Regions from separate parts of the Homo sapiens genome. Here region 2 is linked to region 1. The links come from fine-mapping of genetic effects on gene expression. A gene starts in region 1. The other region holds a variant in brackets. All regions are shown on one strand. Distances are from middle to middle. Region 1 holds the start of USP4 (ubiquitin specific peptidase 4). Region 2 overlaps RHOA (ras homolog family member A).

Region 1 (4,000 bases):
GCCACCACTAACGGCTAATTTTTTTTTTTTTTTTTGTATTTTTAGTAGAGAAGGGGTTTCACCATATTAGCCACGCTGGTCTCGAACTCCTAACCTCGTGATCTGCCCGCCTCGGCCTCCCAAAGTCCTAGGATTACAAACATGAACCACCGCGCCGGACGCCCGGTCTTTTTTTTTTTTTTTTTTTAAGACATTTCGGTCTCCACGTTGGTCAGGCTGGTCTCGAATGCCCGACCTCAGGTGATCCTCCTGCCTCGGCCTCCCAAAGTGCTGGGATTACAGGTGTGAGCCACCGCGCCCGGCCGGTTCACACCCTTTATTTGTATTTATTTTTTTTTTTTTGAGACAGGGTCTCACTTTGCCGTCCAGTCTCAAGTGCAGTGGCGCCATCTCGACTCACTGCAACCTCGACCTCCTGGGCTCAAGGGATCTTCCTACCTCAGCCTCCCAAGTACCTGGGACCACAGACGCGAGCCACTGCCCGGCTATTTTTTGTATTTTTTTGTAGAGACGGGATTTCGCTATGTTGCCGAGGTTGGTCTCTAACTCCTGGGCTGAACCTATCCTTCCGCCTCAGCCTCCCAAAGTGCTGGGACGACAGGCTTGAACCACCGCGCCCGGCCTGGTTCACACACTTTAATGGCACTTACCACATACTGCTAGGCATTGAGGTTATTTCTGTAACATCTCTTCTTTTCTACTAGATTCTATGAGGGCAGGAACTAGGTCTTATTTTTCTCTGAGGACAAGGACTGTTAGACAAGTGTATGGAGACGCATCTAGACCAACTGCCTGACTTCCTCTTTCCTCTGGGTTTACTTCTCCCTCCAAGAGGAGGGTTGTGTGTGTGAGCGGGGCGACTGGAAAACATAGTGTTCAGGACGTTGTATCTTGTTCCAGGAACTAAGTACACGCCTGGGTAACTAATGTGGAGTACCTCTCCTTCCCCTGTTGCTATCGCCCCTCTGTGGCTGCTTGGCAAGTAGCTCAGTATGAAGAGCTGACGGAATTCTGCGGTGGGCCAGGTGGCTCTGGCGTCGACTGTTTAAGGCGACTGTTAATGACTACAACACACCATTGAGTCTTGGTCCCAAGGCGCTGGTGCACATGGTACTTCCCGAAATCCCTGTAGGGCCGCTGGAGCAGGAGCCCCGATCCCACGTTTGGGCAGCTGACTCGCCTAAGGCCTCCAGCTGAAAGCGGAATTGCAGGGGTGAGAATGAGCAGACCTAACTACCGGGCTTCTCGCACCTGGCCTGCATTTATTTAGGACCACGATAACCTCGAAGGCCAGGCTGGGGTGCCCGATGGGTCGTGGGCTTGCTGCCTAACTCCCTGAGATCGGCGGGCTGAACAGAGCTTCGAAGTGTAGCGCCATCCTGAGCAGAGGAAGGGGCGCCCGAAGGCCGCGTAGCGGGCGGCAGGGCGGGAGGAAGTAGCAGCTGCTGCTCCCCGCCCACCCCTCTCGCGTGTGCCTTTCCGCTCCACTGTTCGCCGGTGAGCTAGGTGGCGCGAGAGCGGAGGGGAGAAAAGACAGCGGCTGCAGGAGCCGAAGGCCGCGGCTCGAGGTGGGGCAGGGGCGGGCACGCGAGCGTGCGTGCGTGGGCGCGGTCTATAGCACGCCGCGCGCGGGGCGGATGTCCGGGCCGGCTGGGCCGGGGCCGCGGAGGAGATGGCGGAAGGTGGAGGCTGCCGTGAGCGACCGGATGCGGAGACTCAGAAGTCCGAGCTTGGACCCTTAATGAGGACCACACTCCAACGCGGGGCGCAGTGGTGAGCTCCCGGCTCGCTCTTCCTCTATGCAGAACCAGGGGCCGAGAAAAAGGGGCCTCCTTTTTCTCGGCTAGAGTAGGGGCTGGGCGGGGATGGTATGTAGTGACCCTGGAAGAGTAGCCTGACACCTGCCCCTCAGGAGAATAACTCCAGGATCAGCTCTGGGAAAGCGCAGGCGGGGCCTGAGTGTCGTCTCAGTTCATTTGGAGCCCTAGGGGGCGGGCCCGGCGGGGGCCAGGAGGAGGGATGTGGAGAAGGGGAAGGTTGGTGGGGACCCTAAGGGTGGGGAGAGCCCTTTACCATGAGGACTCGCCGTGTGACCTTGGGCGAAGGTGTCACAGACCTGGATTCCTCACTGTTAAAACCAGGATAGCAATATTTGGCTCACCGACCTCAGTGGGTTGAGGGGAAAATCAGAAGTAGATACTTTGTAACTTGTAAACTGCCAACAGATGTCAAGGTCAGAAGCTGAACAAATGTCTGAGAACCCCGATTATTTTGGTAGCAAGTGTCAAAAATATTTGCGGCAGCAGTGTCTTGGAGTGGGAGAGGAGGATAGCCTAGGTCCTGGAGCTAGATAGAAGATGAAGGGTCCAGAATTTAGAAGACCCAGGCTGAGTTATTAGGCATCTTAATAGATTGTTTAGTAGAGGGGACAATACTTTGTACTACTGGAGAGATTCCTGGGTGGTGTAATTGTGTAGGAGTAGAAAAACTAAGGCTAGACTTTGCATCGAGTATGATTGTTACCCATCTTGTTTGTTTTGTTTTGTTTTGAGATGGAGTTTCACTCTTGTTGCCCAAGCTGGAGTGCAGTGGCGTGATCTTGGCTCACGGCAACCTCCGCCTCCCGGGTTCAAGCGATTCTCCTGCCTCAGCCTCCCGAGTAGCTGGGATTACAGGCTCACGCCACCACACCCAGCTAATTTTTTGTATTTTTAGTAGAGACCGGGTTTCACCATGTTGGGTAGGCTGGTCTCAAACTCTTGACCTTATGATCCACCCGCCTCGGCCTCCCAAAGTGCTGGGATTACAGGTGGGAGCCACCGTGCTCGGCCCGAGTGTTACCTATCTTTAAGAAATCATTGTGGTGATGATCTGCCGAGGAATTGAGCAGGAGAATAGAAAAATTGGGGTTAGGAGGAGTACAGATAACAGCTTATGTATTCACCTTGAGCTAACCAGTTTGTGAAAGGCAGGGTAAACAGAGGTACTTTTTTTGTGTTTTCTTTTCTTTTCTTTTCTTTTTTTTTTTTTTTTTGAGAAGGAATTTCGCTCTTGTTGCCCATGCTGGAGGGCAATGGCGCGATCTCGGGTCACGGCAACCTCCCCCTCCCATGTTCAAGCGATTCTCCTGCCTCAGCCTCCCCAGTAGCTAGGATTACAGGCATGCGCCACCACGGCCGGCTAATTTTTTTTGTATTTTTAGTAGAGACGGGGTTTCTCCATTTTGGTCAGGCTGGTCTCGAATTCCAGATCTCAGGTGATCGCCCGCTGTGGCCTCCCAAAGTGCTGGGATTACAGGCGGAAGCTACTGCGCCCGGCCTAGCAGAGGTACTTTTTAAGTTAACCTCTATAGGGTTCATAAAGAATACTCAGCAGAAGTAGAGGAAGTTTAAGATAGACTAAAATCATACAGTAAAATTGTATGGAAGGTATTGCTCAAGGGATTTGGAAGAAAAATAGCATTTTAGAGATGGATGTGTTTATGGATCCTTGTGACCTCTGGGAAGCTGCCTGACCTCCTCTCACATTTGTTGGTTATAAAATTTTAAGGATGCACCAATATAATTGTTGATGCTTTGTTGCTCCACAGAGATTGTTTTAATTGTAAAACAGCATAGAGATACTTTTTTTTTTTTTTTTTTTTTTTTTTTTTGAGACGAAGTCTCGCTGCATCACCAGGCTGGAGTGCAGTGGCGCGATCTCGGCTCACTGCAATCTCTGCCTCCCGGGTTCAAGCGATTCTCCTGCTTCAGCCTCCCGAGTAGCTGGGATTATAGGCATGCACCACCATGCCCCGCTAATGTTTGTATTTTTAGTAGAGACAGGGTTTCACCATGTTGGCCAGGATGGTCTCGATCTCCTGACCTCGTGATCCACCTGACTCAGCCTCCCAAAGTGCTGGGATTACAGGCGTGAGCCACCGCTCCCGGCCAGCACAGTGATACTTTAAAAATATAAACAGGTCTGGTGCAGTGGCTCATGCCTGTAATCCCAGCACTTT
Region 2 (4,515 bases), 28 kb before region 1:
GCTTTCTTTCCTAGTAGAATGTTATTTATAATTAAACACTTTTATAAGCTACAGAGTTATTTTTGACTTGACATTTTGAATTATGCCACTTGGTTCAGTTCTAGTATCTGTTTTGTTTTTTTGTTTTTTTCCTAATTGAGTCAAGGTCTCACTGCCTAGGCTGCAGTGCAGTGGCACAATCTCTGCTTACTGCAACCTCCGCCTCCCGGGCTCAAGCAGTCCTCCCACCTCAGTCTCCCAAGTAGCTGGGACTACAGGCGTGCACCACCACAGTCAGCTAATTTTTTTTTTTTTTTAAATGGAGTTTCGCTCTTGTTGGCCAGGCTGGAGTGCAGTGGTGCAATCTCAGCTCATTGCAACCTCCACTCATTGCAACCTCCGCCTCCTGGGTTCAAGCGATTCTCCTGCCTCAGCCTCCTGAGTAGCTGGGATTACAGGCATGCTTCACCACGCCCAGCTAATTTTGTATTTTCAGTAGAGATGGGGTTTCTCCACATTTGTCAGGCTAGTCTCGAACTTCCGACTTCAGGTGATCCGCCCGCCTTGGCCTCCCAAAGTGCTGGGATTACAGGCGTGAGCCACCGCACCCAGCCCACACTCAGCTAAGTTTTATTTTATTTATTTTTTTTTTTTTTAGAGATGGAGGCTCGCTTTGTCGCCCATGCTGGAGTGCTGGAGTGCAGTGGCACGATCTTGGCTCACTGCAACCTTTGCCTCTCGAGTTCAAGCAATTCACCTGCCTTAGCCTCTCCAGTAGCTGGGACTACAGGCGCACGCTGCCGTGCCTGGCTAATTTCTTTCGTATTTTAGTAGGGACGGGGTTTCACCATGTTGCCCAGGCTGGTCTCGAACTCCTGAGCTCAGGCAGTCAGCCCGCCTCAGCCTCCCAAAGTGCTAGGATTACAGGCATGAGCCACCGCGCCTGGCCACACTCAGCTAATTTTTAAGGTGTTTTTGTAGAGGTGGGTTCTCAGATTTTCAATTTTGAGAAATTTCAACCTAAAATAATTTAAATATACTCTCATTTGAGCTTGATGCTCATAAAAGTGAATACTCGGCCGGGTGTGGTGGCTCATGCCTGTAATCCCAGCACTTTGGGAGGCCGAGGCAGGCGGATCACGAGGTCAGGAGATCAAGACCATCCTGGCTAACATGGTGAAACCCCGTCTCTACTAAAAGTACGAAAAATTAGCCAAGCGTGGTGGCGGGCGCCTGTAGTCCCAGCTGCTCAGGAGGCTGAGGCAGGAGAATGGCATGAACCCGGGGGCAGAGCTTGCAGTGAGCCAAGATCTTGCCACTGAACTCCAGTCTGAGCAACAGAGTAAGACTCCGTCTCAACAAAAAAAAAAAAAAAAAAAAAAAAAAAAAAAAAGGCCAGGCGCGGTGGGTCACGCCTGCAATCCCAACACTTTGGGAGGCCGAGGCGGACGGATCATGAGGTCAGGAGATCCAGACCATCCTGGCTAACACAGTGAAACCCCGTCTCTACTAAAAATACAAAAAATTAGCCGGGTGTGATGGCGGGCACCTGTAGTCCCAGCTACTTGGGAGGCCAAGGCAGGAGAATGGTGTGAACCCGGGAGACGGAGCTTGCAGGGAGCAGAGATCGCGCCACTGCACTCTAGCCTGGGCGACAGAGCAAGACTACATCTCAAAAAAAAAAAAAAAAAAGAAAAAAGAAAAAATGTAAATACTCCTGTGTTTTACTGTTTTAGACCGTCTGCCATTTCAATGGTCTGCCATTTCAATGTACTATGGTAAGTGTCACTTTTTCTAAAAGTGGGTGGGGGGATTAACCTTGCACTCTTGTGGTTGTTTTTCCCATTACAGGTAGAGTTGGCTTTGTGGGACACAGCTGGGCAGGAAGATTATGATCGCCTGAGGCCCCTCTCCTACCCAGATACCGATGTTATACTGATGTGTTTTTCCATCGACAGCCCTGATAGTTTAGGTGAGTGGCCCTGCACCCTGATATTTGTCACTGCCTGTGTAGCTAGTTGGCATCTGGTTTCTGGGCATCAAGTGGCTGAAAAGCAGACATGAACTTCAGAGAAGCAATCATCGTCAGTGGCCGGAGTCCTGGAGTTTGGGATTGTAGAGCGTGGGCCTTGGGTCCCTTTCAGCCTAGGTCTCCCATGGGTACTGTATTTAAAATGTATCCACCTAGGCAGGGCACGGTGCCTGACACCTATAATCCCTGCGCTTTGGGAGGTCCAGACGGGTGGATCACCTGAGGGTCAGGAGTTCAAGACCAGCCTGGCCAACATGGTGAAACCCCGTCTTTACTAAAAGTACAAAAAAATTAGCCAGGCATGGTGGTGCACGCCTGTAGTCCCAGGTACTTGGGAGGCTGAGGCAGGAGAATCGTTTGAACCTGGTAGGTGGAGATTGCAGTGAGCCGAGATTATGGCACTGCATTCCAGACTGAGCAACAGAGCAAGACTCTATCTCAAAAATAATAAT[T/A]ATTATTATTATTACTAAATAATATTAAATGTTATTTAAAAATCTAACTGCCTTGTAAACTAGATGAATTCCAGATACAAAGATGAGTAAACTAAGGCTGGTGCGGCGGCTGACACCTGTAATCCTAGCACTTTGGGAGGCCGAGGCTGGCAGATCACCTGAGGTCAGGAGTTTGAGACCAGCCTAGGCAACATGGTGAACCCCTTGTCTCTACTAAAATACAAAAATTAGCTGGGTGTGGTGGCGTGCACTTGTAATCCCAGCTATTCCAGGGGCTGAGGCAGGAGAATCACTTGAGCCTGGGAAGCAGAAGTTGCAGTGAGCCAAGATCATGCCACTGTACTGCAGACTCCATCTCCCAAAAAAAAAGATGAGCAAACTAGATGAGTTCCAAATGTAAAGCCATCTCTTTTGGGGAAAGACTTTCTTTTTTTTGGTTGCCCTGTCTTAGCCTTTTTCTGAAGTGTCTTAGCTGATAGAAGCTTGAATGTGATCATTTCATTAGCCTAAACACAGCCACATAATTCAGAAGTCAGTAAGTCAGTATTCTTTTTTTTTTTTTTTTTTTTTTTTGAGAGGGAGTCTTGCTCTGTCTCCCAGGCTGGATTGCAGCAGCTTGATCTCAGCTCACTGCAAGCTCTGCCTCCTGGGTTGATGCCATTCTCCTGCCTCAGCCACCCAAGTAGCTGGGACTACAGGTGGCCACCACCACGCCCGGCTAATTTTTTGTATTTTTTAGTAGAGATGGGATTTCACCACGTTAGCCAGGATGATCTTGATCTCCTGACCTCGTGATCCGCCTGCCTCGGCCTCCCAAAGTGCTGGGATTACAGGCGTGAGCCACTGCGCCTGGCCCAGAAGTCAGTATTCTTTAGAAAAAGACTGAAGAATGCTAACCTGACATTCTGTGAAACCAGGCTTGAAAAAACTTGCTTTAGGTTTGTGCTGAAGATGATGAGGTATCTATTAATAAACTTGTGCTGCAGCCCTCCCTGTCATGACAGGGCAGCAGGTGGGTCAAGGATGTTGTCGTCATTACCACAAACAGCCTTTGAGGGTCTGCTTGTGGCCTCGGGTTGCCTGGATAGTTAGTGTTAGAGTGATTGTGTTGTTATGGTTGTCCCTACCTTAATGATGATAACTGGGGTTGCTCCAAGATATTGAGCCACTTGTTTAAGGTCATGCTGGCCCAAGGAGCTGAGCTAAGATTGAGTCCTCTGTGCAGTATGTCCCAGGACAGAGAAAGAGCACGTATTCCATGCCGTTGGTTCACTTAGATCATTTTCAGCAGTTATGATTGATTGATTGATTTAGAGGCGGGGTCTCGCTCTGTTGCCCAGGCTGGAGTTGAGTGGCACAATCTTGGCTCACTGCAACCTCCGCCTTCCAGGTTCAAGCAAATCTCCTGTCTCAGCCTCCCAAGTAGCTTGGACTACAGGCATACGCCCCCACGCCTGGGTGATTTTTGTATTTTTAGTAGAGACCGGGTTTCTCCGTGTTGGCCAGGCTTCTCTCAAACTTCTGACCTCTGGTGATCCACTCACCTTGGCCTCCCAAAGTGCTGGGATTACAGGTGTGAGCCACCACACCCAGCCTAGTTTTGGTTTTCAAACTAATATGACTTCCTTTTGTGAAGCTGCTGGAAGGCCCTGGAGGCTGGGCAGAGCTTTAGGCCACAGAGAAAATTTGAGCTAGTTGACACTCTCCTATCAGATACACACATAAATAACTTCACCTAGATCCTATTGGAATGAGAAGGACTGTGTGCCTTTGCCCTCGTTATCTAGTGTATAATTCTTGAGGGAAAAAACTGCCTCCAGAGCAAAACATTTTGTCTCTTCAGTCTCACTTTTTTCTTTTTGAGACAGGGTCTCGCTTTCTTGCCCAGTCTTGAGTGCAGTTGCAGATTCAGTTTACTGCTGCCTCGACCTCCTGGGCTCAAACAATCCTCCCATCTCAGTCCCCACCCAGTAGTTGGTACTACAGGCACACACTGCTGCGCTTGGTTAATTTTTATATTTTTTAGGCCGGGCATGGTGGCTCACGCCTGTA

The links. PIP is the estimated chance that this variant, and not a neighbour inherited with it, causes the effect. A credible set is the group of variants that fine-mapping cannot tell apart.
Region 2: its variant is the best candidate, but not a certain one, in a credible set for the expression of USP4 in sigmoid colon (GTEx, PIP 0.56).

Annotation. Positions count from the first base shown.
Region 1 is chr3:49,337,697-49,341,696 of GRCh38, reverse strand. It overlaps USP4 (ubiquitin specific peptidase 4), which reads left to right and starts at 1,644. Exons shown (of 22, transcript NM_003363.4): 1 at 1,644-1,773. The coding sequence starts at 1,673. RefSeq lists enhancers at 1,024-1,083, 1,174-1,343, 974-1,473 and a silencer at 1,514-1,703.
Region 2 is chr3:49,365,864-49,370,378 of GRCh38, reverse strand. RHOA (ras homolog family member A) reads left to right here. Exons shown (of 5, transcript NM_001664.4): 3 at 1,831-1,951. Among named protein-coding and RNA genes, the nearest start is that of GPX1, 9.8 kb to the right of the region's middle. The variant T/A (reference allele first, on the strand shown) is at 2,464.